Regions from separate parts of the Homo sapiens genome. Here regions 2 and 3 are each linked to region 1. Evidence: fine-mapped expression QTL. A gene starts in region 1. Each other region holds a variant in brackets. All regions are shown on one strand. Distances are from middle to middle. Region 1 holds the start of TMEFF2 (transmembrane protein with EGF like and two follistatin like domains 2). Region 2 has its middle 52 kb from the start of TMEFF2. Region 3 has its middle 40 kb from the start of TMEFF2.

Evidence for each region. PIP is the estimated chance that this variant, and not a neighbour inherited with it, causes the effect. A credible set is the group of variants that fine-mapping cannot tell apart.
Region 2: its variant is the best candidate, but not a certain one, in a credible set for the expression of TMEFF2 in subcutaneous fat (GTEx, PIP 0.65).
Region 3: its variant is the best candidate, but not a certain one, in a credible set for the expression of TMEFF2 in esophagus mucosa (GTEx, PIP 0.84).

What each region holds. Positions count from the first base shown.
Region 1 is chr2:192,189,253-192,200,155 of GRCh38, reverse strand. It overlaps TMEFF2 (transmembrane protein with EGF like and two follistatin like domains 2), which reads left to right and starts at 5,223. Exons shown (of 10, transcript NM_016192.4): 1 at 5,223-5,803; 2 at 8,167-8,276. The coding sequence starts at 5,632. RefSeq lists an enhancer at 4,702-5,277.
Region 2 is chr2:192,241,705-192,252,607 of GRCh38, reverse strand. No RefSeq gene overlaps it. Among named protein-coding and RNA genes, the nearest start is that of TMEFF2, 52 kb to the right of the region's middle. The variant A/G (reference allele first, on the strand shown) is at 6,319.
Region 3 is chr2:192,229,619-192,240,521 of GRCh38, reverse strand. No RefSeq gene overlaps it. Among named protein-coding and RNA genes, the nearest start is that of TMEFF2, 40 kb to the right of the region's middle. The variant G/A (reference allele first, on the strand shown) is at 4,793.

The DNA.
Region 1 (10,903 bases):
CAAAATGAGTTTGAAATAAAGCATTAGGCTAAGCCCTAAGAAGGCTATGATTAAATTAATAGCAATGGAAACCTACTTGAATTTATAAATAAAAAGACACCAGATTGTATAGAGATGACTACTGCTTATTAAATCTAGCTCTCTTCCAATAACAGTTCTTCCTTTTTTTTTTTTTAACTACTGGCAAGCTAGTGGCAAACATTAACTAGTTCATATTGCTTTGGCTAGATGTTTTAATAGTCTTTGGTGAGATATGTGTTTTACAAGTTTTAATGGAGAAAAATGTAAGTATTTTACCTCCTGAAACTTGGCTATTTGAGTAATGAGAAAATAGTCACTTTCCCCAGGACAGTGGTTCTCAATCATGGCTATGTGTTTCTCCAGGAAAACTTTAAAAATATATATATACCAATGCTTCTGTGTCACTTCTAGGGATTCCAAGTCTTTGAATACGAACTCTGCATCAGTATTCTTTAATTATCCAGGTGATTGTGATGTGAAATCATGACTGAGCCCCACTGCTCTAAGATGAAATAAACTTTCCTCAGCACTGAAATCACAAACTTAAACTACCAAAATTAATTAAGGGCATGGGAATCAATAAGGCATAGGGAAGCTTTTACATTATAAAATTATTTCTTTAAATCACAGCTCATTGTTTATATGTTATTTGCCATTGTAGAAAAGGGTGAAAAAATAGCAAATTTAATTACTCTCAGTTTGAAAAATTATCCAGAAATGAAGATGACGACTCTGAAACATTGTCAATATCATTTGACCTATAAATAATGTTCTAATACATTTACTACACACTGATAGATACTTTTTCATATGAATATTATACATTAAAACTAAGGCAATAATGATTTAGAACATTCTATCTATATCTATGTATCTTAAGTAGGCTAGAAATTAAGATATGAGTTATTAAGTATGAGATGTTAAGGTGTGGGGTTAGAAATTATACTGTACTTCATTATCAATAATCAACATATACTTCAATATCACATACATTTAACTTTAATTTGTACATCTTTAACTATTTTTAATTATGTGTATAAATATAAGTACACACATCTTTATGTATTTATTTATTCATACCTCCATTCACTTATTTATATAGGGGATCCCCCCAAATCCACTACCATTAAACCATACATTTTTATTTTAATCTTTAGAACAAGCCCAGGAGGCAGGTATTGTTATTACTCACATTTTACAAATGAGGAAATTGTCTACAGTCACAAAGTTACTGTGTCAGACATATTAGAAGCTTAATACATATTTGGTGAACATATGCATAAAAACAGAGAGACAGACATGTACAACAGCTCATCTTTACACTGAGTAAAAGCTTTTAACCTGTCTCAGAAACCTCTCTGTGAAAACTGAGCAAAAATCGAGGTATCCTTTCATTTGTCATATAGGTATAGGTGGTACCTTACTTCTCCAACAAGGATGAATATTGAAATGTGGATCCCAAGGCCCAACTCCAGATTTTCTGAATCCCTGATAGTGGGACTTGGAATTTGTCTATTGTTTCAAAGTTTCTCAAGGAATTCATATGATCAACCAGGTTCAGAAATCACTGGATCTTATTGCCGAAGTTTGAGAATTAAAGTTTGGGCCTTACTGCGGCTCCACAGAAAGGGCAAATGAAGTATCATGGACAGAACTGATACGTTCCCAGTTAGTTTCCCCTCTCAGAAGCTAACAGGCAGCAATACAGCAGAAATTAGTGACTTATGTCTTGTGCTCTGAAGTCAGGCAGAATTTCACAGAGTCCCAGCAGTGTCACTGACGAGATTTGTTTCTTGGGGCAAGTTGCCTGATGCTTTCAAAGCCATATTCCTTTTATATAAAATGAGATAATATTCTTTGTCTCATAGGGGTGTTTTAAAGATTAAATAAAAATAACATGTTCTATCCTACATGGCACAATGCCTGACACCTAAGAAGCAAAGGATACATCTTACCTTTATTGAAGCAATCAGAAAGTATGAAATCATGAAGGAGATAAGAGTTCTGATTGGCAGTGTATCTTATTTTCCCAGGTTCATTTATTTATCTTAAACTATTCTTGTTGGAGAATAACTCCCAAGCCCCCTACTTAAGCTGTGAGTAATCTCACACTTTATAATGATGTTCTTTCCATGAGAAAAAAAAATGTTCTTAAGTTTTCTGGAGAAAATATATCTGCACTATTTCTACTGAAAAATCTAACAACTGGACTCTGCTCCTCTGCATCAATTCTAGAGTGTATATGCCACAAATAAAGTGTTCTAGCTCAAGAAGATTGAAAGTAAATATGGTATAGTATTTTAAAATAAGAATTTTGCAAATACATGGTATGATTGTGTCATATTACTAGCAATCATATGATACGCAATGCAAAGTACAGTTCATAGACTTAAATTTAATTCTAATAAGTAAACTGATTTTGCCTTGCTGGGGAAAAGTTAAAGCACTAATCCAATTGCTAATGCAGTCTTGTCTACTTCTTTGGTACCTAGTGACAAGTCTAAATAATGTATATATTTTTATTTACATATTCAGTAATACAATTCTCTGCTCAATGAGTGATGTTCTTCTGCCACTTGGTGGTGCTTGCCAGTTTCAGAATTTGTTTCTTGGTGGCACTATAACACTAAGTACAGAGTAAGTGCAACAAAATTGCAGCATTCCCATTGAAAAGGCTTTGCTTCAAACTGTTTAATAATTTAAAGGACCTCTGTGGAAGCAACCGCATTTGTTAACCAGTTACAACCAGTAATTAACTCCTTTGGAGTTTTAACTTACTTTTGGCAAAACGTCTTAGGAAGAGCATATATTATTAGAAAGTATGCCAAAAATTTACTTAGCAGAAAATTCAAAAACAGTTTTCCTCTGCTAAGAGGTTCTCTAAAATTCTACTTACATAGCCAAACTCTGAAATCCTAGCAGGTCCTGTTTCATTATCATAATTACTGCATAAACACTTTTAAGGACTTTGCCTTTAGTTTCAAGCATGACTTATTTTCATAAGCCTGATTAGTTACCACACCAGCCTTGCTATGGAAAATGACATGTTCTCATTCTCTGCTGTAGAGTTGTTAAATCTTGATCTATATTTATGTTGCCTTCTCTGCTGAAAGCCTGTAGCGAAAGAAATTTCTAATTCCTTGTTTTGCAATATTAGTTGGCAGCTCTATCTAATGGGTATTCTGTTTCCTTAAAGAATTTAGCTGCTCTGTCTAGAAGCCGATTTTCTGATGCCTCCAACGTCTGGTCTAATTGATCTGTTTTAATGGAGTCTTCGTCGGTGAGGAGCGAGATGCCACCGACTAGAATGCTGGGATCTGCTGCTTAATTGCCAGGAGTGAGAGACACTGAGATTCAGAAATCTTTGGAGGTGGGAGGGGAGAGGGACAGTCTCGGACGGAGGCGGAGATGTAAGATAAAGGGATGGATTTCACACAGGAAAAAAAAAAAGATTTCGTTGAGGCACTGAGGTGCTGCACGATCACATCTCTCAAAGGAGAAGTTAAAAAGCAAGGAAGTGGGAGGAGGTTGGAGGTTAAAGTACTTAAAAGGATTACTCGGGTACAATTTGTTTTTCTGCTGGTGTCTGCAAAGGATAGATAGTCCCGTTTTCAAAGTATATGAATGCCTCTTTTAAGTGATTGGGAATGGACACTAATTGCCTGTTAAATGTTATCAAATGCTCTCCTAAATTCAGGGGACACAGAAAGAGGGGCACAAAAGGAGAATTTAAATAGAAAAAGGGAGGATCCGGAGGCTTTTGAAAGCGGGGGGAGAAGAAGGAGGAGGGATAACAGAGAGGAATAGAGAAGGAGAGCGGAGAGAAGATAAACAAAAACAAAAACAGGAATCACTGAATAATCACACACCAAAAAGAAAGCTCTTCCCTATGGGGCATCCAAAACACTGAGACTGCAATAGTGACCCCGGTCATGGAAGAAAGATGTTCCTCTCCACCCTTGTCCCCGAAAGCTCTTGGTCCCGTTACTGGCGACTAAAATTCCATTAGGCTAAAGAGTGTGTCTAACTGCCTGAAGAATGCAGCAGACGGAAGGCGGGTCCCGCTATGCCGTTTGCCCTTCCCGCTGGAGAGAATGAAAGAAACGCGCAGAGCCAGAGACTCCTGCCGAGTTAGACCTTCTCTCGTCGCCCCAGGTCACCGGCCATCCGGCAAAGACCCGAGTAAGGAACGCAGGGTCACTGCCTGGGCCAACAAATGGAGCCCGCTCTCCCCTTCCCGGACGCCGCTGCCCGGCCGATGCTCCCGGCAACCCACCCGCGGCGTATGCAGAGGAGCCTTTCTCTTTCTCTCAGACCACTTGTCCCGACCAATCTGACCTTCCAAACACATCTGACCGCACCTCCCAGGTGGACACACTAATAGGCTACGGGCTGGAGAGGAGCGGGTGATGAGGAGAGGGATTCAAACCTGCGAACGCTTGGGCTGGGTCGGAGCTGCGGGGGGCCTGGGAGGAGAGAGGGGAGAAGAGAGAAGGAAGGAGAGCGCCTGCCGGGATGGCTGAGCTGCCTCGGCGAGCAGCCTTGGGGTTGCACGCTCTTGTGGGAGATGCTGCTGTTGCTTCCAGGTCGGCAAGAGCGGTTCTAACACCATCGCCTCTCACCCTCTTTCCTGTAAATCCCTAGAGAAACGTCCCTGGCCTCTCCGCCGCGACATTCCCAGCCTGCATCCCCCTACAGCCTAGGCGGCGCGCTCCCGCACGCTGGAGCGCCGGTCGCCAGCAGGACGCCCTCTCCCGCGCCGACTCGCCCCTCTCTGCCCTGCTGCTGCTGCTCCTCTGACACCTCCGCCCCCACCATCTCCAGCTCGGAGAGACGCCACCCAGCCGCGGCCCGCACTCGCGGCCCGGGGTCACGCGCGGAAGAGGGGCGCTAGTCCGGACCCCGCCTTCGGTAGGGGGCGTCCTGGAGCGGAGAGTGAGGCGAATGGTATATGAGTGTGCGGGTAGCCCACCCTGAAGCCCGAGCTTCTCATTTGAGCCATCCCCGCCTAGCCCCACTCGGGCCAGCGCCTGGCGAGCGAGCCCATCTGTGGCTTCCGCGGCCGCCTCCTCCTTGCATCCTTGCACCTCCTCGTCGACCCCTCCCTCCCGGGACCTGCATCCTGCTCCACCAATCAGAGCCCGACTGCCTCTTCCCACGTGACCCCGGGCGGGCTGAGGACCTGCTGCTTCCCAAACGCCAGAGGGATGCGGGCGGCAGAGCTCGAGAGGCGGCTGCCGGGCTGCGGGGCGCCTTGACTCTCCCTCCACCCTGCCTCCTCGGGCTCCACTCGTCTGCCCCTGGACTCCCGTCTCCTCCTGTCCTCCGGCTTCCCAGAGCTCCCTCCTTATGGCAGCAGCTTCCCGCGTCTCCGGCGCAGCTTCTCAGCGGACGACCCTCTCGCTCCGGGGCTGAGCCCAGTCCCTGGATGTTGCTGAAACTCTCGAGATCATGCGCGGGTTTGGCTGCTGCTTCCCCGCCGGGTGCCACTGCCACCGCCGCCGCCTCTGCTGCCGCCGTCCGCGGGATGCTCAGTAGCCCGCTGCCCGGCCCCCGCGATCCTGTGTTCCTCGGAAGCCGTTTGCTGCTGCAGAGTTGCACGAACTAGTCATGGTGCTGTGGGAGTCCCCGCGGCAGTGCAGCAGCTGGACACTTTGCGAGGGCTTTTGCTGGCTGCTGCTGCTGCCCGTCATGCTACTCATCGTAGCCCGCCCGGTGAAGCTCGCTGCTTTCCCTACCTCCTTAAGTGACTGCCAAACGCCCACCGGCTGGAATTGCTCTGGTAAGTCCAGAACCCCCGTCCCCGACCCTTTAACTCCGCAGAAGAACACGCGTATCCAGCACAGACCAGCCTACCCTAGCGCGCCTCCTCAGCCCCTCACCTCCTACTGCCCTAGACCCCTAATACCACCCACCTCTATCCAGAGAAACAAGGGGAACTGTTGCAGGCCCGGGGGTGAGGGGTGGTTCTGGGATGGGCAGAAAGTGCAGGTGTAGCAGGAAACCTTTGCATGCTTGCGCTTACATTGGAGCTGCGAGGATTTTGAGAAATATTAAACGGGATGGTTTTCTGGGTTCACTGTTTTGAAAGAGCACCAATCCTAGGGGAAACACTGAAACAGAAGCTTTGTCATCATTAAAGAAAAAAGTCTTACTAGGATGAGGAAGAAATAACTTTATGAGAAAGAATGAGCGAGAAAGCAATAAATCAAATGGTGACTGCAGGGGAATCGCTGATTCCTGGCAAAGGTGCCATGAGGTCGCACTGGTCTCCCGTTGAAGACCAGGTCACACAGATTCTAGAGGAGCTGGGTTTCAATAGAATTTCTCTCTCTCTCTCTCTCTCTCTCTCTCTCTCTCTCTCTCTCTCTCTATCTATCTATCTCTCTCTCTCTCTCATTCCCTTCTCTCCTAGGCGGCAAAAGACATTGGTTTTGCAGTCCAGATATGCCCCTCTCTTTGCTTCCCTAAGCTTCAAGGTAGTACAGGGGAGTTGAGAAAAAGAACACTTTGCGGGTCTCCCAGGCCGGAGTGGGCATGACTGAGGCTGGTCAGGCTCCATGTAGGCGAGCCGAGGGCGGAACCGACTTCAGTGGGCGCTGACTCCTCCATTTCTGGACAGGCTTCTGTGGAGTGGGTCAGGCACTCTTCTTGCTCGCTCGGGTTCCTTCAGATTCTGACGGCGAACGCTTGGCAGGCTTCGCTCTGCTGAAGCTTCCTAATTAAATAGGGCCAGAGGATGGGAGTTGCTGCACTCCTAGCTGGCATAGCATTTCGGTTTGACAGCCTGTAGTATACTGGGCAGAATTGTGGTGTAATTTCCTTGGCATTTTAAACTCCGTTAACATGCCTGGGTATTGTCCCCTAGGTGTGGTCTGTTCTAGTTTTAGCAAGTGTGTATGTAATTTTTCATCTTCTGTGAATATAATTTTGCTGTAGTTAAATCTGGCTCTGAATAAAGTGTCTTTCAAAGATGTATATAAGCTGAAGTGTATGTAACTTTAGAGAGGAGGGAATGACCAACTGTAACTCAGGGTGAAAGCCTGTATAGTTCCTAGTTATTACTGATGTAAATGCCAAAAGGAAAATTATTATGCATCATTCTAATTTATCCTTTACAAAGACAAGTTGAGATATGCAACCCTATTAGATTTGGGTCAATAGATTGTTCTCTTTTTTGGCAGTTTCTAAATTTGGCATTTTAATAAAACTCAACATGTTTCTATAACTTCTTGATTCATGCGTACATGTGTGTTGTTTTTGAAAGAATAAGTTTCACTTTGCTATTGCCTAATCACTTTTTAGATGCTTTATTATGGTAATAATTATGAGCCTGCAAAAACAATTTTTGGAAATGTTGATGGCTTTGTAGTCCAACACAGACTGGTTTGCTTCATTCCTAGCCCTTGCATTGTTTTAGGAAATAACTAACTTAAATGTGAAGTTGACATTTGCAATCAAGAAATTACATATTTACCAGATATTTTAAAGGGGACTGCATAAACTAAAGAGAATAAACTGGTTTTGCAGATAGGTTGTCAAGAACTTGGCACCCCGCTTCCACCCCTGTTAACTTAGAGGTGATCAATCTTCATTTGAGCCAAACAGACCATCACAGAAAACACTGTGCCTGTTTATCTTTATTATTGAGGCTTTGTTTCCTCTTTGTCTGGATACATTTCAAATAAGGGGTTGTTTCAGTCGTTGAAGCAAAAGAACAATTAAAGATGGGGAAATGGTAAAAGGGTATTCAGAGATCATCACTAGCTCTTTTCCAAAATGTGGAGTTTTGTGGTCATAAATATTGTCCACCTAATGAGCAAAAAATAAAAATAAAAAAAAAACAGGAAGCAAATGTTAAGCTTTCATTCACCACTGTCAGTATTAACGCAAGCTTTAAAAAATAGCACTATCAGAAAAGGATACTAAAGGAGAATTGACTAGAAAAGAATTGTGGAAAATGGAAACGAATATTGATCACTTAACTAGATTTTGAGGTTATCAGTAGACAGTGACCTTGCAGTACAGCTATAGTTGTTGGATTTAAAATTTAGGACAAGTATTTTAAAGCTTCAAAGTAGTGCTTTTTTTTGTTAAAAATCTGTAAGATGTTTTAATGACTGGAGTGTTCTCTTTGAATTTGAGGTTATGATGACAGAGAAAATGATCTCTTCCTCTGTGACACCAACACCTGTAAATTTGATGGGGAATGTTTAAGAATTGGAGACACTGTGACTTGCGTCTGTCAGTTCAAGGTAAGAAGTCTTATATTTGCATCTTCTAATTCATTAATGAGACTGCAAAGCAGGAATCTTCCTTTACAGCCTATCACTTGGAAATTTATAGCTATGCAAGCTAAGAGGGAAGCTGGCACCAAGCAAAAGTACTAGCAAGAGAGCCAACTGATGTCAAGAAGACATACGCTTTTTGGAGAAATGTATATGCCAAAGTTATAAATGCTGCTGGAGGTAGAAAGCTTCAGGTTGTGCTTTTGGGATGTCAAAGGAAAATTATGTTTCTCTGACCCTTCTAGCATCACTTTAAAAGTGAATTGACTGGGGATAATAGTCAAAATAGGGGGTAAGAAGTGTGGACTTATTCTTTTGTTCTTTTTGATTGGGGCTATCATCTTTTTATCTTATTGCTATCTGTTTTAATGGTCTTGGCCTTTATTATCCTTGCAACCTGACTAGGTTTTTAAGGTAACTCCTTATTAGTGTAACCTCAACACTTTGTTCTAATTTGGAAATCATGGAACTTATTAATTAGTGTATATCAGCTTTTTCATAGATACCACACTCAATTAGAACTGAATCCCCTAGGAATCCAGAAGAGCATTTAGATCCACAAGTCATTTTATGAACATCAGGAAATGTACTTTTTCTTGTGTTAATTTCTTTTAACTAACAAAGAGAGAAAGAAGTTGCACTACTGGCATGATCAAAACTGGGTTATTAGTATCTATTAAAGATAGAACTTTTAGTGTCATTAGTATAGTCATTAGCTAACAAATGCTTTCCACCATGTAAGTTATAAAACTTTTCCTCTCAAAGTGTTCATATAATCATGCAGAACTTCAAGTAGCATGGATGTTGTACTAATAGCCTATATTTGCCCTTGAGTATTTTAAGTTACTTTTAAAAATACTTTTAAAATCTGACAATATGACTCAACCAGGAAATATGCACATAAACAAAACTGTATGTGAGATAATGAAAACTTTTCTAAGATTGTAAGAATAAAAATGATATAGAACAAATAAAAACAATAAACTCAAATTTAGACCTAGATATCTGGTTAATAAGTAATATTTAGAATTATTGATGAAATTTAAATATTTTAGATGGAATTCAACCTCCCACTAAGAAAGAGAAGAGAATTCACATTTAAATAAAGTTTAAGTGGCTTTTAGAAATGCTAAAACCTTCTTAGACATTATTTTATTCTTTCTAAGAAACATAATAAGACAACTGATATTTGTAAAGTGCACCACCTCCTGGTGGGTAAGTAGTGCTCTGACTGTACAGTTTTTTAGACCATACCATAGTGTCAGAAACATATTCTTGCATATTTAATATGCATGTAACGTCAACTTCTAAGGTCTGCAGCCACATTAAACAGTGCCATTATGTACTTCCAATGAACTACATGAGAGAGATAGAGTATGAGAACTCCCCAATTCATACTTACCCAAATGTTAACTAAACAGGAAAAAAGCACAGTTGGATAAATCATTAATTAAAGTCCCAGAGAATTTTGTGAATTTTTTCCTTCTTTCCCTTTGTGATTTCCATAAATTTGTCTTATTTTCATAACCATGGGTAGACAAAAGCAATGAACTCATAAAAAGTATCAAATGAACCAGGAAAAACATTCCTGAAATGTAAAGCCATGGTTCTAAGATTTCACCAGGAGAAAAAAAAAAGGGGTTGACAGAACTCTAAAGGGATGAATGCTACGAAATGAAAATAAATAATTTTCTTATTAAAGGAATTGTTTTCATTTTATAGGTGCCACAGAAGATTTTGGTAAAACTTTTATCAACAAAAATATTTGTGTTTTTCATACATTGGCCAGTCATGTTTGTCATTAATTTAAATAATCGTTAAGTGGAATAGATGGGGGAGTGGAAACGAATGCAAGTCTGTGTAAGAAACTAAAATGTAAATTGTTTTTTTGTAATCCTTGTGGCATTTTAAATGTACTAGTGTACTACTACTGCTATTAGTTTGTGCTTTGCAATAGTTGTCAATCTGGCAAGAAAAAATAAACATCTCCCTAGTGGAAAATGTAGACTTTGCACATACCAAGAATATAGAGTGGCTGAATTAAGTTGAAAATCAAAGAAAAGTATAAGTTGCATGAAGAATAATAAATAGGATATTTTAAGCTAAGAGTCTCTTGAGTCCATCTTTTCCCAATACATGAATTTGAGTTTTTGGTGTTTGTTATTTTAGCCCTAGTATCTGATAAAAAGGGAGAGGTATTGAAAATCTATTTTCCTATATATTATCCTAAACTTCTGTTTCTTTCTCTGCTGCCTTTTCAGGTACAAGCGTGCATTCCTTTTTTTTTTTTTGGAATTTTTGGAGACAAGGGTCTTGCTCTGCCACCCAGGCTGGATAGTGGTGATGCCCTCTTGGCTCACTGCAACCTCCACCTCCTGGGTCCCAGCAATTCTTGTGCCTCAGCCTCCCGAGTAGCTGGGAATACAGGTGCACTCCATCATTCTCAGCTAATTTTTTTGAATTTTAGTAGACACACGGTTTCACCACGTTACCCAGGCTGGTCTCAAACTCCTGCCCTCAGGAGATCCACCCGCCTCGGTCTCCCAAAGTGCTAGGATTACAGGTGTGAGCCACCACACCCAGCCTGCAATCTA
Region 2 (10,903 bases), 52 kb before region 1:
TCATTCTGTCTTGAGCCATGTAGTTTTGTATGTCAGAAAAGCCTAATAATTCTTTTGTGTAGCATTCCACCACATGCAGTTAGATATTTAAGTAATGTTATAGCAATCATTGATCATACTTTTTCTACTATCTGTTTCCCTGGGCTTTTTTTAATCTTTTAAACTATATTTATATTTTATTTCCAGACATTTATAATATGCTGTTATTTATTCCTGTATTTTAAATCTTTACATAAGAATATAACCTAATGTGTCCATGAGTGAATCTTTCTTTTCAGCTTTTTGGGAAGCTATACTATATGTCATTAGGCCATGAACATTCCCCACTGTGAAGAGTTCAAGGAGGAGAAGGCTTAGTCTGCCTGGGTAGTCTTCAGAGACACAGGTTATCAAAGTCTGTGCAGGACATAGGCTATGCACCAGGTCTGTGTCTGCTGGGGCTAAATTGGGTGAGAACAGAGTCAACTTTTAAATGAACTGATGATTATGATAAAAGGACTGGCTTTTATTTTTATTCTTTTGAGCAGAAGAATGAGCTGGAATCCTGGCTGACTTATCCTGAATGATTACATAACATGCAATTATCAGTAGTAATAGAGAATGGGATGAAGAAATTCTCAGGAAATCTCTGGACCTCATTTTAGGCATAATTTAAACGTCAATGATAAGAAATATTTAATCTAGCTTTTACTAAAGTCTTTTCTCTGGAACATTAATTCTGTTTTATGTCTTAAAAAAAGAAAAAGAAAAACTCTCTAAAGAAATAAGTTTGGGAAATGCTAGGTTCAACACAGTTAAAACCAGTTTCTTTTTTGCAAGAGAGCTAGAAGCCTTTAATACCCCAGTGTGTACTGTGAATTTTTAAAAGGGGGGATATAATATGTAGCATTTATCCAGAATATTGAATTAAAGAAACATTTTTAAAGGCGATTTTTAAAGAAGTATTCTACAGATCATACATTGAAAAATGCTGCTCAAATCAGAATTGGTAATAGATATCAAATTGATATGATTGCATTAAGTGGATTTTTTTTATTTGGCAGGAAAACTGCCAAATAAGAGCAAAATGTCCTAAGGGCAAGTAAACATATGGACTAGGAAATCAAAAAAGTTCTGTATAACCAGCCTGCAAATGCTTCAGCATGAGCTATACTTTTAGTAATAATTGGCCTCCAGATTATTCTGGAAATATGCGATTGACAGGAAATCGAAATCAACACATGCCCTACCAAACACCTTTTAAAACTGCTGCTTTTCCCAAGCACTAATACTTTCTTCTATCTCTCCAGAGCCAATGGTAATCTTTACCAATATCCAGTCTGCTAGTGGCTGGGAAAAAGTCCAGCAGAGCCATGGGTGAGCACTTCCCCACTCAAAGCAAGTGATCACATTGATTAGTAGCTGCTCTGTAGGAGCTGGGAGACAGATGCCTTGTTCTAATTACAGTTTTAGCACCTTCCACTCCACATTTCCCTGCTGCAGAGGGTGCTGTGAAGTCTCTGCAGATGCTTATCAGCTAAACTCCATTTTGAATACAAAGTGGCATTACTACCTCACAAGAACTCAAAGTACAGGCTAAATTCACAAGATGCATTCCCAGACTTCATCTCTGTAATACCAAGGAGAATATTTATTTGTCCCTTATTGACACAGGGAAGTTGAGACAACTGTATAGGCCTCTAATAACTTCACTTATCTGATACTGCATCAGGGAAAGAGCAAGGAATACTACATGTGCAGCTCATTCCTGGCATCTGCACTCAGTGATCATGAGAAACGGGAGGGCCCAATGAAAGAGACTGGGGCATTTTGGCCAGGGGAGTAGAGAGACCCTCCACAGCTCCTCAGCCTCTTTCACTGATTTCTTTCACCTTTTATGAATGCTGGTATATTTTCTACATGTGTATTTTCTGTATCAATAACCCTTTCCCTCTAAATGCTCTTCAGTGGGACTCTAAACCACTTTCTGTGGCTTCAGCCATCAACTCTAATTGGACAGGTAACAAAATTGTCCCTACACCCCTGACTTCTCTCATAAATACAGTCATATTTTCGTCTTCCTGATGGACATTTTCATATAGGTATTCAACTAGTGGCTCAAATCAATACATCAAAAAGAGAGAACACTTTGATCGCCACTTCCCCAAGCCCAAATTTCTTTAAAAAAATGTCATGTATTTCACATTTTGTATTGGGATAAGGATTTAAAAATAGACCATATATTTAACAAATATTTTTGGGAGTGTATTATGGACAAGAAACTGTCCTATGGGTTAGGATACAGCAGTGACCAACACAGAAAAACAATTCCAGCCCTCCTGGAGTTTATATTCTATTGAATTGTTACAGAAAATAAATACACCAAACACACAAGGTCAAAATGTAATGAAATTATGGGGAAAACCTAAACAGATGAAAAGACTCTGAGGTACACAAATGTTTGATGTGTTTTTCAGATATCAGAGAAGCCAAATGGTACTAAAGCAGAATGATCTAGGAGGAAAAGATTTAGTTCAAAGAGATAGTGGGCCCAGAAAGTGAGATACAATTGTTCTCAATCCAAGCTGCACTTGATAGTTACTGATATGGTTTGGCTGTGTCCCTACCTAAAACTCAACTTGAATTATATCTCCCAGAATTCCCACATGTTGTGGGAGGGACCCAGGGGGAGGTAATTGTATCCTGGGTGCTGGTCTTTCCCGTGCTAGTCTCGTGATAGCGAATAAGTCTCACGAGATCTGATGGGCTTATCAAGGATTTCCACTTTTGCTTCTTTCTCATTTTCTCTTGCTGCCGCCGTGTGAGAAGTACTTTTTCCTCCTGCCATGATTCTGAGGCCTCCCCAGCCATGTGGAACTGTAAGTCAAATTAAAACTCTTTTTCTTCCCAGTCTCAGATATGTCTTTATCAGCACCATGAAAACAGACTAATACAGTTACCTAACAAAACATTTTAAAAATATCATTGTCCAGATCCCATACAAGAATTGCTAAATTAAAATCTCTGAGTAAGAGACCCTGATATTGGTGTCTTTCAAAAGCTGCCCAGGTGATTTTAATTTGCTTATGTCAAGAAGCACTGAAATTGGGAACTTGCTGGCTATTACAATGACCTAGTCTTCTATCTGAGTAAGAGGCAATGTTTTTATCAAAGAAGTAGCATGATCCTATTTATGTTTTAAAAGGATAGCTCTATCTGATGTGTGGAAAATAAATTGTAAGTGGGGGGTGACAAGGGCATAAGGATCAAGTCAACTTTTGGACTCTAGTAACAACTCAAGTGGGAGAGGTAGTGGCGTGGGGAAGGGTGGTAGCAATGGATGTGGTGGGAAATAGTCAGATCCTGAATATATTTGGAAGGTAGAGGGAACACGGTTTGCTACTGCATCAAATGTATGTGGCAAGAAGAACTGAATGATAGCCCCAAAGTTTTGGCCTAAGAAGGATGGACTTGCCATACCTGAGGTCAGGAAAAAACATGGGAGAAAGCTTAGAAGAAAAGGCTTGGAGTGGCTTTTGAACTTGTTAAGTCTCTTATGTCTTTAATAGACACAGAACAAACAAAAGACATCCAAGACTGTGAAGTAGACAAATAGCTAGAACTCTGAAATTCAGGGAAGATGTTTAGACTGGAGATAGAATTTGGGGAGTCATCAACAAATAGATGGCTTTAAAGCCAAAAGATTGTATGAAAGCCCCTAAGAAGTGAGCAAAATGAGAAAGAAAAGATGTCCAAGGTCTGGCTACCATTGAAACTTTAGGGAAATAACTGAGCAATAAAGGAAGGAAGGGGATCAGCAGAGTATATGGCATTTCAAAGAAATAAACTTCATCTAATGTTGTGAAGTCAAGTAACATAAGGACTGACGATTGCCTATTGGATTTAGTATTATAGATACTATTGGTGGACTTGACAGGAGTAGTTTTAACGGAACCATGTGGGCAAAAAGGAATATTAGTGTAAGCTGAAGAGTAAACCCAAGGAGAGGACTTTGAAACAACTTTTTGAAGAATTGTGCAATAAAAAGAAACAGAGAAATGTGCTTGGAACTGAAGGGAAAGTGGGGCTTCAAGAAAGTGTGTGTAGGCCAGGCACGGTGGCTCACACCTGTAATCCCAGCACTTTGGGAGGCCAAGTCAGGTGGATCACCTGAGGTCAGCAGTTCAAGACCAGCCTGACCGACGTTGTGAACCCCCCGTCTCTACTAAAAATACAAAACTTAGCCAGGCATGGTAGTGCGTACCTATAATCCCAGCTACTTGAGAGGCTGAATGACGAACCTGGGAGGCAGAGGTTGCAGTGAGCCAAGATCCCGCCATTGCACTCCAGCATGGGCAATAGAGTGAGACTCTGTCTCAAAAAAATAAAAACAAACAAACAAAAAATCAAGAAAGTGTGTGATACTATTATTATCGGAGAGATTAAGGCATGTCATATGATAACACAAGAATCAATTAGAAAAAAATACTAGAAATATACCCTTAAGTAGATGAAAGGGAATTATGTATGATGCACAAGAGGCTGAATTTTGCTAAGATCACCAACTTTTTTTCTCCCAGAAACAAGAAGGAAGGCAGAGATAAGAGAGGGTGAGAAGATGTTGTGGTGGGATTATATGGAAAATTGTTTATGCGTATCACTCAATTTTGGAGTGTTTCTAAATTTTCTTCTCCCATGATATAGCTGTTAGATGGATAAATTTCTTGCTTTACAAAATGGCTTTTTAATTATCCTAGGTTAGATTGATACATTTTAAAAAATTGTGACATCTCGCATTTTTCAGCGTTAAAGTAACTTATCTCTCCCTCAACTTTCTAAGCCATCCATATGTCCCAGAATTTGGTGAGCTGCTAAACAATTATCCTTCAAAAATAGTTGATACATTGTGGGAAATAACATCCTGTTTTAGTTTACTATAAGAAAATCATGAGTCAAATGTAATGAATTTCCCTCCCAACCTAAGAGCCCTCATAACATTCTGTCCCTCAGCTTCCAACTTTCCAAAAGAGCTTTCATCAGCTGATTCCAACCGACTTTAATTCAATTTCAAGTAAATAAAGGATTAAAGAAAAGAATCATGCCTCCCTCTAACATGTGTGAAACTGATTATATAATCTACAAAGGATCTACTAAAATTATACAGATTGTACTATCCTTCATATAGAACATTTCATTAGTTTATAGAAAAGTGAGACTTATTGAACTATTGGCTATGTGTAATATATCCACAAAGACTGACTTTTCCAATTACAGAAACTTTTTCCATGTAAAGGCCAAAAATAAGATTTGGATTAGCTGCTTTTTATACCATAAAATGACTTTTAGCAAATCCTGAAATTAACGTTTTGCGTATCATTTTATTGTCAAATTTTTTAATACTTACATAGGATCCTGTTATTCTTATACTGTCTGATATTATGGGATTATATTGATGAAGTCCAGATAAGGATCTGGCTTCCACAATTTTCAGCAACCCCATAGAGGCTGGAATATAACGTATAGTAGGGGCACAGTAAACTTAATGAGGTGAATGTAGTTGAAATTTTAGTTGAAAAAAGCAGTGTAAGTAAGATGTTAACTGATTAAAGTCATTAGAATATAAACTCCATGTGGGTAAGAACTTTGAATTTCTCTAACAACTCTATTTCTAATACCTGGCCCATAGTTTAATGTGTATCTGTTGAGTGCATGTTGAAGAATCAATGTACAGATAATTTCTCTGTTTACATGTATTAGAACATGGTCTTTAGCTATGACATATGACTATATGCCAAACGTTGAAAAAAATTATTATTAATTTTGGAAGCCATGTTTCCTTATTTCTCTCTTCTTTATGTAGTTGGTATGGTTGGCTGCCTATCTTCAAGCCCAATACGCCAGACCTCCTAAGAATTTTCTGAGCTGCCCAGTTTTTTTTTTTTTTTATGTTTAGCAAATGCCTTTTTCCACTTAAATATTTCAGAGACAATTTTTTGTTGTTGAAAACTAAGAATCCTGGCAGAGAGAGGATCCCTGTGCTCCTTGGAGCCCAGAAGAGATTTAATCCCCGGGACATAGTCTAGATGTAACAGCTGGGTCCTCTGCCTTTTCTTCATTGGAAATTTCTTCTCTTGGGGTAGAGGAAAGGATTCCCGGAGGGAATTGGAATGAATCATGAATCTGCTGTTAATAACACTTTGTACTTTCCTTGCAAATTTTGTTCCCACCAGAGCTCAAAATGTTTTGTAATCCAGCATTTTGTTCTGTGGCTGTTATTTCCAAGGATATTATATTTGAGGATAATATGCGTTTCTAGAAAAATTGCCAAAGAATTGTTGC[A/G]TGTGAATAGAAACTGAAGCAAACTTTGCCTCTGACCCATGCTAAAATAACACTCTTGTCAGCTTGACTATATTAATAACCATGAAGGTGATATTTTAATACTACCTGTATTCCTTACAGGAGAAAAAGCTCTAGAATTAGTCCTCCAGTTATTTCAACTACTCAGACCTTTCGATGAGGATGCAAGACAGGTCTTGAAAGATGTTGTTTTGACACCCTTGACTGTTGTAGTAATCATTTCAATCTTTATTTCTTTCAAAGAATGTAACATCACAACATGAAATAAAATGACTATCTCTTTTATACCTCTCTATTTATTAAAAAAGCAAATAACTTTTGACTAAAATGAATTTTAACCAAATCAGATAAACCTGAGCTCCAGGATTTGATCTATTTAGACAGCTAAATGAGAAAATTCTTGGCCTTCTTTTCCCCATCATGGTTTCCAAATTGTTGTCTTTAATTTGTATGTGTAATTAAGCATTGTGTTTAGAAGTAACTAACAAATTATAGATCAAATTATTTCTGCAATGATCAGTCTCCAAGATGATCCTCAATGGCCTCTACATCCTGGTATTCAGACTCCCATACTGTACGAGGGATAATTTGTGTGACTAATAACACGCTATATGTAATGATGTTCAGGGATTAGGTTATAAAATTGCAACCATCTTGGGCTCACTCCATCTCTTACATTGTGAGAAGCCCGTGTAGTGAGGAACTGCAACCTCTGGCCAACAGGCAGCACAGAACTCAGAAACTGAGGCCTGCCAACAACAACATGAGTGAGCTTAAAAACAAATTCTCTAGCCCCAGTTAAGCCTTGAGATGACTGTAGTCCTGATTAACAGCTTGACTGCAACCTTGTGTGCTAGAATTACCCATTAAAGCTGCTCCTGGATTCCAGACTCTCCAAAATTGTGTGAGATATTGTAGAGTTTTTGTCTTCTTGCTGAATTATGCATCAATTTGACACACAGCAATAGACAGCTAATACTATTTCTACAGTGCCAATCTGATAGAAAAAAAATTTTGTGAAAAATTTTCTAGATATATATTCAGTTTGCATATGGTACATCAAAATCAAGATGCAGAATTAGTGATCATCCACGATTAGTGCCTCTACCCTGAATTTCACTTAAAATTCATGTTTAGCTATTAATATATGAACAAAAATAAAATGAAAGAAAATTAAGGGCAACTTTGGACACTATTTAAACAAAGTTTCTCATGAATTTATATTGGCTACCTTAAAAATCTTTTGGTTTTAAATTACTATCAAAATTATTTTAGCTTTCTTGTATAGTCTATGGTTATAAGCAAAGACACTGAATATAAAGGTGATTTCTCAGGACAAAATGACAGATTTTATGTTAAAACCTTAAAAGTCTTCAATTCTTTTGATTCATTATGAGACACATTAAGTGCCACCATCAGGCAGATATTGTTCTAGGGACAGAGAGTAAGACAGCAGTAAGCAAAACAAAATACAAATGTCTCTGCCCTTAAGGAGTTTATATTTCAGTAATCTCTCAAAGCATTTAAGATAGTTGGGCAACTAATTCTTTAGCCAATGTCAGGAAGATCTTACTCTGTGTGGCATCATGCTCTTTCATAAGAAAAAATATATATTTATATTGTGTTGAAGTTTGTCTTCCTGTGAATGACACGCAATAGTTTTAGCTTTTCCCTCTAAGTGACACTAAGCATTTTAACCTTTATTTTATGACTGACTTTTAAAATATCTAAAAATTAGCTATTATATTTTCTTGTGGTAGTCCCATTACCCCCAATTTTTTTAAACAGGCTAGAACTTCAGCAATTTTGTGTGCATTTTAAAAAATCTAAATATATTCAGTGTAAAGTACAGTCATTTCTTTAGGCTAAATGAATTGTATGTTTGAACATTTTTGCTTTATGATAAACTCTATCATAACATTACATTATTTAGTTGTTCCCCTTGTATACATTGATATAGCATGAGCCATACATATAGTATCTGTTTTTAAATGTTTCATTGTTGGAAAATGAAATTTTCAAATTATCTGCATTTTAATATACTGCATGCCTCCAAAGGAGACTGTCATGGTTTTTTTCTGGTGGACATAAGGTGACAGTGCAGCTCTCATGATGCCATCTTGTGATAAGGCTGCTTGGAAATATAGTACAGATGACCCAATGGTGTCAGAGGGACCTATTTCACCGTTTGTGAACCTACAGAATCAGTAAAAAGCTGTTCATCTCTATGTCTTGTCAGATGAATGTAATGCACCTTGAGGATAGAAAAAGACATTCCATCTATACAGTAAAAAATGAAGGCTAGTGTGGGAGGTGAATAAAATTCCAGGAAGAAAAAGAACACTTGTATTTAAAAAATATTTTTCATTTTGAGTGGAATACCTGTTTTCGGTGGCTGAATTTTTGACAACATAGTAAAACCCTGAGTATTTAGAAGATGTCAGGACAAAAGATAAGTGATCAATTTTCTTCACAATGCAAGTTACCTCTGAGTGTATCATCTTGGAGCTTTCCATTGTCTGTCAGTGACTAACACCATATCCAACTGTAGCTTTGTGTTTTCTCCAAATTTGAGAAGACACTATATGACTCATTGACAGACAATGGCAAACTCTCTTCAAGAAAGCAGGGGGCAGAAGAAACGAACATCTGGGAACTAAGCTGCAAAGAACTAATTTAAGAGTTAAGATGCTGCTGTCCACCTCCATCTGTGCATCTCTTCTCCTGAAAAAGGTTTATGTGTTCTTCTTTAGATAGAGAAAAAAATGTATTTTGTACAATGGAAATAACAACTTTAGACTGCTGGAGCAGCATGCTCAACCATGTAGCACAGGGTTAATATTTCTCCAGATCACAAGAAAAGTTGAAATACATTGATTTGTTATTGTTGCTTTTAATTCAAGTAATTCGTATTATTTTTTCTAAGTATAGGGATAAAACAGAAGACTGGCAGAGAACCACAGTTTAACAACCACTTAGTCATATTAATATACTATTCTATAATATAATCAAATTTGAATTTTATGTCTTAAATATATAAACTTATTTTATGCAGTTATCTTTATGTTGTGCTTATATCTTAGTATTTATCTTTAAAAATATATTTTTCACCTGATCTCAATCAAAACCAACAAATAATGTGGTATCTTTCCCCTTTATTTCAGACTGATACACATTTCTGAGAGTTCTTTTTTTTACATCTAGTTTCAGAAGGCATGATATAAACACTTTTCACTCTGTAAGATTTTTACAGAAGTCCCTTTTTTTCTTAAGCACTAAACACTAGTTATTTTTTCTATTTAACAATGAACGTTAATAGAGTCAAAAATGCAGTGCCATTCATCGGTAAACAAATTGTTCAAATTTTTGAAACTTTCAGTTTTACTACACTAGGTAGTCAAGAATATCCAATGAATATCTATATTTCATATAATATCATGCTTATTTGCTCTTTCTCAATGATTTCCATTTGCAATTAAGCACAAAGAGTATATGAAATTTCCAACATGCTGTGTCTCTGGAACAAATTACTTCAAGAAAAATTTTTATTATAATGATTTTCTATAAAGAGACCCTTTTGCTACTATTGTTATTTTTGAGTGTGTGTTTGTGCGTGTATGACCTTTTTTTATAAAATACTCTGCAACCACAAAATCTTAATGTTTTGCTAGTGTTCTTGGAAGACTCCAAGTCCATCTTCATATCAATATAGACAATTCCTCTTAGCATCCCTGAGAAGCTAACATCTACTTCCTGCGTAAGTACCTCCATTTGCTACACTTAAAAAAATAAGATCAATTTGGCATCAACTATGTTCCAGATACTCTCTGATATGGTTTGGCTGTGTCCTCACCCAAATCTCACCTTGAATTGTAATAATCCCCAAGTGTCAAGGGCGGCACCAGGTGGAGATTATGGAATCATGGGGGCAGGTCTTTCCCATGTCATTCTCGGGGTAGTGAATAAGTCTCATGAGATCTGATAGTTTTATAAAGGGGAGTTCCCCTGCACACACTCTCTTGCCTGACACCGTGTAAGATGTAACTTTTATCCTCATTTACCTTCAGCCATGATTGTGAGGCCTCTCCAGCCATGAAGAACTGTGAATCAATTAAACCTCTTTCCTTCATAAATTACCCAGTCTCAGGTATGTCTTTAATAGCAGCATGAGAATGGACTAATACACTGTATTAATGCTGCAATTAGCAAAATGAATACTGGGTGTGTTGGTTGCCAGAAGCACTCTATCTCCTTAGAGAGATGAACCAACAAGCAAATAACTAGACAATAGTATGTTACGTGTCACAATGGAATAAAGTCTCCAGAAGGTAGAGAGAGACTATCTCTTTGAAAAGTTAGAAAAGACCACATAAAAGAAAGAATATTTGAGCGACATTTCAAACAATTTTTGCTGGGTAATTGAAAAATAAAGGAGAAAGTGTAGTCCAAATAAGCATAAGAGAAATAGCACATGTTTAGATGTGTGAGTGTGCATGATAATCTAAATAAGTCAAATTTCTAGAACTTACATGTAAGAAGTGTGGAGTGATTGGAAGGATGAAAAATA
Region 3 (10,903 bases), 40 kb before region 1:
AGAGAAGCATTTTTGCAGACAGCTGGCTATGTAGGCCATTGGCTGAATTTTTTAAAATTAATTTTAACTAAAATTTTGCTAGACATACATCAAAATTTCTACATTTTAACACCCTCTTTCCTGGAGCCAAGACCACTCAAGCTCTTTCTGACTTTTTAAAAAACATATCTTTCTTAGTAGGGAATATTGAAGTAACTACTGACTAGATAATTAACCAAGAGCACTGTTCCTTTGCTGTGTATGTATCTGCACTTGTTAGCCTACCAAAAAATTTAACTGTTACTTTCAGAGGTTCACTTGCAATGGGCAGCTGACATTTTAGGGAATAAAATATCATTGCTATCCTTATACAAGACCAATCATTAAATTAGTAATACTGTCATCTCTCAATCTTTGTTGTTAAAGATGACTGCACTAACATAGATGTATAGTTTTTGCCTTTGATTATGGCTGTGAGAAAGGCACAGAAGTTTTCATTTCAAGGGAGCAATAAGAGAAATGCATGGAATCTTAATTTCTCAATGTGCTCAATAGCAGAGGAGGACATCTGGCTGTACGCAGGCCAACATGCAATCAAATTAACATTATGAGAGTGCCACTGGTGAGTCCCATTTTCTTCCCAACATAGACTATGTTTTAATTCTTTGTAGTTTAAAATATGATCATTTTGTTTAGATTATCTGCTAGGAATTTCACCTCCAAAGGGCATTAATGTCATAATAGCTTTGAAAAGTGACTCTATCTTCTATTTCTTTCAAAAAAAACTAGGTAGGTTTGGTCTAGGAAAGCAGAGAAGTTGTCATGCTGTGGCTTACAGTGTTCTCTGGCTCTGTTTGTCCAGAGGGGCCACAGCTCACCCATCTTTAAGGAGGTAGGGGACAAGATGATCCCTTCAACAGAGGAGTGAGGCTTTTAGTCTCCATTAGTCTTTGTGGTATCTTACAATGTTTCTGGCACGTACTATCTCTGCATGGGACTGGACAACTGTTTTTGAGTCTAGTCTCTCATGAGCAAAAGTAATAGCTAGTCAGAAGTATAATCAATATTAAAAATACATTTATACAATCATCAAAAAAGTTAGCGTGTTTTTTCTAAATAATGATGGTATAGGTCCATGATTTAGACTTTTAAGTATTTTATATATATATATATATATATGATATCATATTAATTTACAAAATGACTACCAATATTTTAGCAAATATTGGAACTATAATGCAGCTCTACATGTGTGTGCCTGTGTGTGTGTGTATGTGTAGTGTAGTGTACACATTCTAGAAAACAAGCAGGTTATTCAGCAAACGAATATGTTTGATGACTCTCCTGGTAGTTTTGTTATTGGTCAAGACACAAATCTATAGTTTGCATGTCATATGCTATTCAGTAATCCTCATCATTCATTATTTGAATAAAAAATCATTTGTTTCCTTTATTGCAATATCCAAACCATTGAAAACTGGCACAAGACAGGGATGCCCTCTCTCATCACTCCTATTCAACATAGTGTTGGAAGTTCTGACCAGGGCAATCAGGTAGGAGAAGGAAATAAAGGGCATTCAATTAGGAAAAGGGGAAGTCAAACTGTCCCTGTTTGCAGATGACATGATTGTATATCTAGAAAACCCCATCGTCTCAGCCCAAAATCTCCTTAAGCTGATAGGCAACTTCAGCAAAGTCTCAGGATACAAAATCAATGTGCAAAAATCGCAAGCATTCTTATACACGAATAACAGACAAACAGAGAGCCAAATCATGAGTGAACTCCCATTCACAATTGCTTCAAAGAGAATAAAATACCTAGGAATCCAACTTACAAGGGACGTGAAGGACCTCTTCAAGGAGAACTACAAACCACTGCTCAATGAAATAAAAGAGGATACAAACAAATGGAAGAACACTCCACGCTCATGGGTAGGAAGAATCAATATCGTGAAAATGGCCATACTGCCCAAGGTAATTTATAGATTCAATGCCATCCCCATCAAGCTACCAATGACTTTCTTCACAGAATTGGAAAAAATTACTTTAAAGTTCATATGGAACCAAAAAAGAGCCCGCATCGCCAAGTCAATCCTAAGACAAAAGAACAAAGCTGGAGGCATCACGCTACCTGACTTCAAACTATACTACAAGGCTACAGTAACCAAAACAGCATGGTACTGCTACCAAAACAGATATATAGACCAATGGAACAGAACAGAGCCCTCAGAAATAATGCCGCATATCTACAACTATCAGATCTTTGACAAACCTGAGAAAAACAAACAATGGGGAAAGGATTCCCTATTTAATAAATGGTGCTGGGAAAACTGGCTAGCCATACGTAGAAAGCCAAAACTGGGTCCCTTCCTTACACCTTATATAAAAATTAATTCAAGATGGATTAAAGACTTACATGTTAGACCTAAAACCATAAAAACCCTAGAAGAAAACCTAGGCAATACCATTCAGGACATAGGCATGGGCAAGGACTTCATGTCTAAAACATCAAAAGCAATGGCAACAGAAGCTACAATTGGCAAATGGGATCTAATTAAACTAAAGAGCTTCTGCACAGCAAAAGAAACCACCATCAGAGTGAACAGGCAACCTAAGAGTGGGAGAAAATTTTTGCAACCTACTCATCTGACAGAGGGCTAATATCCAGAATCTACAGTGAACTCAAACAAATTTACAAGAAAAAAACAAACAACCCCATCAAAAAGTGGGTGAAGGATATGAACAGACACTTCTCAAAAGAAGACATTTATGCAGCCAAAAAACACATGAAAAAATGCTCATCATCACTGGCCATCAGAGAAATGCAAATCAAAACCACAATGAGATACCATCTCACACCAGTTAGAATGGCAATCATTAAAAAGTCAGGAAACAACAGGTGCTGGAGAGGATGTGGAGAAACAGGAACACTTTTACACTGTTGGTGGGACTGTAAACTAGTTCAACCATCGTGGAAGTCAGTGTGGCGATTCCTCAGGGATCTAGAACTAGAAGTACCATTTGACCCAGCCATCCCATTACTGGATATACCCAAAGGATTGTAAATCATGCTGCTGTAAAGACACATGCACACATATGTTTATTGCGGCACTATTCACAATAGCAAAGACTTGGAACCAACCCAAATGTCCAACAATGATAGACTGGATTAAGAAAATGTGGCACATATACACCATGGAATACTATGCAGCCATAAAAAACGATGAGTTCATGTCCTTTGTAGGGACATGGATGAAGCTGGAAACCATCATTCTCAGCAAACTATCACAAGGACAAAAAACCAAATACTGCATGTTCTCACTCATAGGTAGGAACTGAACAATGAGAACACATGGACACAGGAAGGGGAACATCACACACTGGGGACTGTTGTGGGGTGGGGGGATGGGGGAGGGATAGCACTGGGAGATATACCTAATGCTAAATGACGAGTTAATGGGTGCAGCACACCAACATGGCACATGTATACATATGTAACAAACTTGCACATTATGCACATGTACCCTAAAACTTGAAGTATAATAATAATAATAATAAAAAATAAAAATTAAAACAATGAAGAGTATACAAGGCAATTTATTTTCCTCCCAGACTAGGCTCCAAGTCCCCTGCTCAGGCAACAAACACTCACAATAGCTTCTTGTATATTCTGTCAGAATTTTTTTATGCAGTTATGATTAGAAGTGTATAATATTGTTTGTTCATTTTAATCATTAATAATTTATTTAACACTTTGAAAATGTTTTATTTTTACTGTTACTATGATAGAAAAGTTAGATTATTGCCACAGAAAATGATCCCAATGAACTCAGTCAAGTTTTGCTTTCACAAATTATTGTTGGTTGTTGTTCCAGGATACAAAATGAACATTGAGGTTTCAGGTATAGGGAAAAAGGGAGAGTAAAATTATATCAAATTAATTTTGATAGATATGTTCTTGATGCATCAACGCAAAAAAAATCAAGTCTTACTTTATGAAATTTTACTTTAGGAAAGTTGAAACCAAGGTGAACACTCCATCTTAAGAGTGAATTTTTCTATATGTAAAAAAAATTAAGAAAAATCAATCAGTCACCATATGACTCAATATTTCCCAGAAAAAAGAAGTGAGTACTACCAAAACTATTTTTGGAATTCGGCAGTTAATTCCAACAAAAAACTTTAAGTATAGATGTGGTCGTGTGTAGAAACAGTCTTCTCTGCTGGACATGAGGTAAGTTTATAATCATTTCCGCCAAGATGTTTTCTCAAATATCCATATCGCCTGTTAGAAAACACCAAATCAACATTGTAGGATAATGAGAAAAACAAGGAAATGCAGGCATGGATTCAGAGTTGAAGAGGCAAGATATTCTCCAAGTGAAATCATGGGAGGTACATGGGAAAGTTGAGAGCAATAAAGTTTTCTTTCTTCCATTGTCATGCCCAAACAAAATTAGAAAATCAGTAGCCTCTTCAGCGTTCAACTTAACGTCCAACAAGTGACAACTTCACCCTTTGATATTCTCTCTCAGCTATTCCCAATCCTCCACTATCCTGGAGAACAATCAATTGTTCTCTGTTTTAACATCTTACCTAATCCTGTCCAATTTAAGAATAATAAACTGTACCGAAAGAATGTAAGCGATTTATATGCCAGATACTTCAGATTATGTTTTAAGCTGGAAATACTTTTGAAAAGGCTGACAGACAAGTTGCTAACTTTTTCATGTTGATAGTGCTATAGTACTCATTAACGTTAAACATTTCAAGCACTGGGCCTGGCGCGGTGGCTCATGCCTGTAATCCCAGC[G/A]CTTTGGGAGGCCGAGGCAGGCGGATCACCAGGTCAGGAAATTGAGACCATGGTGGCCAACATGGTGAAACCCCGTCTCTACCAAAATACAAAAAAATTAGCCGGGCGTGGGTCGGGCGCCTGTAGTCCCAGCTGCTCAGGAGGCTGAGGTAGGAGAATCACTTGAACCAGGCAGGCGGGCATTGCAGTGAGCCGAGATCACGCCACTGCACTCCATCCTGGCAACAGAACAACACTCCGTCTCAAAAAAAAATAAATAAAAAAAATTTAAAAATAAAAATAAAAAACTCAAGAACTGAATCCACCAGTAGAAGAAAGCAGCTTTATAATGTTTCTTAAATAATAGCTGTGGTATGAATCTCTTTTAAGTTTTAACCCATTAAGCATGTCAAGAACTAGGGCTCTTGAAAATGTCATATAGAATGTATTCATATTTGGAAAGAAGAACAAACATAAGAAAATTTTTGACTTATTAAGTATTATTAATAACAATGGGAAAATATAAGTATAAATGTTAAAATATTTAGAGAAGTGGAGCAGAATGAAAATATCAAGTAAGTTTAAGACTGGGGTGCAATAAAGAAGAAAATATACTTATGTTGGTGGTTACAACTGAGGAAAGATCATGTTATGTTACATTCAGCATTGTCTTTTATTTGTCCGATGTTTCAGGATAAGCATTTCAGATCACAGAAATCAACTTTTTTACGGGATTGACTGTCAGGTTAAACAGAGTGAATGTGGACAATAGAAAGACAAAGAGTAAAATGAAGGAAGAGGAAAATTTGTTAAGCTGAGAAAGATTTTAAATTACTAAAAAAACTGGGAGCTGGATTGGCGAAAAGAGAGAGCCAAGGAAAATGAAATAACAGGATATAATGAGACAAGAAAGTGTTATAAGGAAGAGAAAGCATGACATTCTACCAAAAAAAATCATAATATAACAAAAACCCACAGGCAGATTTACAGTTTTACTCCCCAAAAATCTTAATATCTGCATAGTTTAAGCAATCAATCAATCAATATATGTCAATAACATCTAAATTGTCAAATGTCAGTAGAAGTATTGCGTTCTCATGTTTTCCTATTCTGGGCTAACAAGGTAATTGCATAAAGCTTGTGTCTGGAATAAACCGAATACATGAAAATGCATTTCAATTAGAGTCTACTTCTACTTGTACTGCAGTTACCTGATTTAAAAGAAACAATTTTAGTACATCTACTTGTCACACTCTTTCTTGTTCATTTAAATGATAGTTGATAAATTTCACTCTGAATATATTTGCTGTTTGGCATTAAAGCTATTAAACTAAAAAATCAAAAAAGTTATTTTAACATTGTGTGCCCTCACAAAACATATGGAATATGTAATTAGGACTTGTAATATACCAAGGAAATATAGCAACTAAAACAACTGTTTTTGATGGCTATATTATAGTTGATAATTTTCCTTCTAAATTATATACTTAAGAAACTGTGTTAAAGGTCAATAGTAGTAGTAACAGTTAATTTAGAAGTGACAGTTTAGGACACACGTTCAATATATAACAACTGCAATAAACATTTATTGAATCCTTTGTCCTAAAGCAGCATGGCTGTTAAATTACTTCTCATAATGGTAGGTCTTAGTTTAAATAAATAAATAAATAAAAACCCACATCTGTTCATGCTTAAACTAAAAATAATGAGTACATTGTTTAGTGATAAGGCCTCTGGAAAATAGCTCAGGAAGCTTCATTTATTTTCCTGAAACAAAACATGAAAGTAAATTGTCTCCTATATAAAGAATTTTATAAATTTAAATTTAGAGGATTAGAGAAGAGGAAGCAATTAGGTTTAATAAATAGTTCTCATGTTTTAAAAAATATTTCCAACTAGAGATATCACAATTTATTTGCCAAAGAATGGAGCAAAAGTACAGATGCACGTTTTTTACTACTAGTAACTATAAGAAATAACAAATTTTAAAATGTGAATAGGCCCATGAGAATCCTATCATTCCTGATAGACCCAGTCTGGTAGTCAGTGAACATACAGTTATGGCTAAGTTTCATGCTTAGGAAGGCATACTTAGGTTAAGTCTAGACACCTAAAATAGCCAGACTTCAGTTCAGTAATTATTTGGTCTGTGCCATAAACAAAACTTACATATTAAAAATTAGGACAAAAAAATGAAGAATAAGATCCTTAACAATATTAGGGAGTTCATAAACAAGTAAGATATTGAAAAAGAAATTTAAGAGACTCTCATAGCCTTACTGAACTTTTTTCATTTCTGGGCCATGCCAAGCTGCTTTAGATTCCAGAGTCATCAGCTCTTGCATCTGACAGAAAGACTTTTCTCTCACTTTATCAGGCAATACCTCCTCTTCTTGCTTTTAGGTTCCCATTTCAATGGCACTCCATTGGGTGTGGCTTCACTTACCCTTCAATAAGTTAGATCCTAGAAATAGATGCCGTTCTGTCCCTGTTTGCTTTTCCTGAATAGCACTCATCTCGATTTCAATACATTGTAATTATCTGTGTAATTTATTTTGTCAAGGCAAGAACCAAGGCTATGTTATATATGCTGTAAGTCCACACATGGTAGGTTCTCTAAAAAAAAAAAAATCTATATGGACTGAATAGTTTATCAGTCAGGATTTCTATAGTCCTTATTTCACTTAAACGTATGAGGTGGCATGAGCCTTTACTTTAGAAGGAAATAAGTTCTACAGAGTATTTTTTCATAGTCTCACAGTTATTAGATGGCACAACTTATATTCTAATATAAACCTCATCTCCCTCCACCATGTTGACTTAAGATACTACTGACTTGATAATTATGTAATAAATATTTTCATAAATGTTTCCTAATGTTCTGCTCAGCATTTTTTACAAATTGCTTCATTTTTTCTTTATGAGTAACATCAATTTAACTAAACTTAGAACCTCCCTACTCTTAGAAATGCAATAATGCCCTTAAGAAGCAATTTTAGTGTCTGGTTGAACTTACTTATTTACATTTATTCTATATATTTATACCAGTAAAAAACTAGTCGTGGAAGTTTTGTCTGTATGAACACCATGTAAAACATTATTTATTATACAGGCTAATTCTTGTCACCATAGCATACATTGTTATCCATCATAGTCTAATATTAGCCTTTAATGATTGCCATTGCAGAAAGGAATAATTATTAATAAGGATACTAAATGATAAGGACACTCAATTTTTATGGTGAAGTGCTGATTTGTTTCAGAAGGAAATTTTTGGATTTAGCGTTTTCAATTGCAATCCAACATTCCTTTGGGGGGGAAATGATGACGTTTTCAAACATGTAAAAATTTTCACATTTACATTATATTGATGCTAAGAAAACTAGTAATCCTAACTTTAACTGCAAATATAATAGATCTCCTAACCAGAATAATAAAACAATTGTACTAAAATGGGTGAAAATTATCAGCATTCCAGAGCATGAAGTGAAAATTACTTGAGGAAGTGAAAATTACTTGAGAATCTGAAATTAAAATACCTTGAACTGTTATTGTGGAAAACATGCCTTGACAATACATAATATATTGCACAGATCAACTAATTTTTTCAGCATTATTCTTAAGTATGAGCCAATGGTCATCAACTGTAAGCTATGAGACATGTCACAATTAAGAACTTCATTTGCAAATATAGAGAAAACCCCTTAGCAATAACCTCAATTATTCCATAGAGGTTTTGTTTGGTTTTTTAAATTTTTTTTGAATAGGCAATTCCAGCACAATTCCAGTTCAGAGAAGGACTGAAGAAGGACAGTCAGGGAAGGCTTCCCACAGGAAGCCTTGACCGGAGAAGGGTCAAGGGCCCCCCAGTGAGAGTCCCTTGCCTCTCCAAGAACTTGCCTCTCTGACAAGCTACATTTTTTTCCGTAGAGCATTACAAACTAAAAGAATCTGTGACTGATCACACCATATTCATATAAGAAGGAAGAAAGACACAAAAATACAAAGTGACATTTAGGGAGATCTATCTTGTGCTCACTCACAAAGCTTCCTTACTGTTTTTGTCCCCAGCTCTCCAAATTCAATATCTTTCCTAGCCTAGATGAAATAGTTACTTGAGTGCAGTTAATGCCCATTCTATATTTAAAAGCTCCAGGCTATGATTTTACTAACTTTTTGTACAACCAGAAGAAAATAAAAAAGATATTTGCTCTTGAAACAGTAGAGAAATGTAGAATAACTGTTGAAATAATAATTTGAAGAAAACTAAATAGAACTATAAAAGTTGGAGGCAGCATACAGGAATGAAAGGCATTCATCCACACACCATGTTGAGTTATTTTCTCAAGCTTGGAAAAGAAAACAGCAATAAGCATGGAAAATGCAGCAAATCGGGTATTCTAACCTATTTGCCAAGGCTTTCAAGGGAACAACACAGAGGGAGTGTTTAAAACACAGCAACCAAGCCACATACGGCCAGATCTCAGCAACGTACCTTTTAAGAGGGCAAAAAATAAAGAGGAAAAAAATATTGAGTGGGAAAAGTAAATACTCAAAAGACTGCTTTTACCTACATATCTACAAATATCATCGAAGTGGAGTCAAATGCTTGGCATTTCTGTTCATACTTGACTCCACTCCAATGTAGTACATTAAGAGAATGCAGAACAACAGGCACGGTGGTGATTGTGTATAATGGCAGGGCATTTGTGGCAGCCAAGCCTAGTTGTTGAGTGCTCTGGGCCATTCACTTAGCGTATAGAGATGCAGTCTGTGAAAATGACTGTGAGGCTCATCAGCTTAAAAAGAACACACAGAATTTAGACAGAGTTCAGGGTAGAATGACAACAATAATGGAGACCTCTAAGGAAACATTAAATAGAGTCATTAGCCTGAAGAAATCTGAGAAGCTGAATATTTATTGATCTTTAAACAAATTATGGCTTACCCCTCAAAGGAAAGTAGTGCATACTTTTTATTCCACTGGGCATCACAAAAAGGAAATGAATTTAAATTGCACTGTGAGATATTTAAGTCAGACATAAAGAGATATTTCCAGGTAGCGAGAGAGTGTGGTTTAAAAAATTAACTTTCTCCGGAGGTCATTAAATATATGCCATCTTAATTGGGTTAAGCCTAATGTCTCTAATTTTCTATCACGTGTTTTCTTCACTGCTGTTATGTTACTATCCCTGTTATTTTGGCATTATAACAGATTATATTTTTATTAGGATGGGACATATTTCTTTGACTGGCTTTCACTCTCTCCTTTTAAAATGTGTATAACATACAAGGAATACAACCAAAATGACTTGTGCCAGCCCAATGTATTTTTCTTTGTTCTTTTGTGTAAAGATATTTTAGAGAATATGCTTACTCCACGTTGATTTTTCACTTTTAGAAAAGGTTAGGACAGTTTGTTTGCTCCTAGAAAGACTAAAATCTGGGAGAAAATACAACAATATCCCAAATACTCATTAAACCAGTTTTATATACAGTTTAAAAGCATTCCTCAAGCCCCTGAAGTGAGTGGGATTTGCTCATTGTGCTGTGCTCTCTTCCAAGATGGGAGTGACTATTCCCAGTAAGCTAAATCATCAAGCTATCTGGGAAGAGTTGAAGGGGAAAAAAATAAGTAATAATTTTTATATTTAAGAAAGTTAAGCTCCATTTGCCCAAACTTTGTCCTACTCACATTAGTACTGGGTGCAATCTGATCATTCAGAGAGGAAACAGAAAATCTTAGACTATTGAAACAACCCAGTGATATCTGTCCCCCAAGTACTTACTCTGACATTCTAAATCAATTTCTCCCCTTTATTTAATTAATCCTCATGTAAGTTTCTAGAAGGAAAAATTAAAATATAAAATGAGAGTCAAATTATTGGTCCCACTTGATTTAAATCTTCAGAACTGACACATTTGTCAAGTAGGCAGTTGTAAAAAAGATTAGTTTCTGAAATTATAAACAAATACCTACAGACGAACTCTCCAATATGATAGCCAGTAGCCACATGTGGCCTTTTAAGTATAAAATAATTAAAATTAAAAATCTAGTTACTTAGTCTACTAGCCACATTTTAAGCATTCAATTGTCACATGGGGCTAGTGGCTACCAAATTGGATAGCACA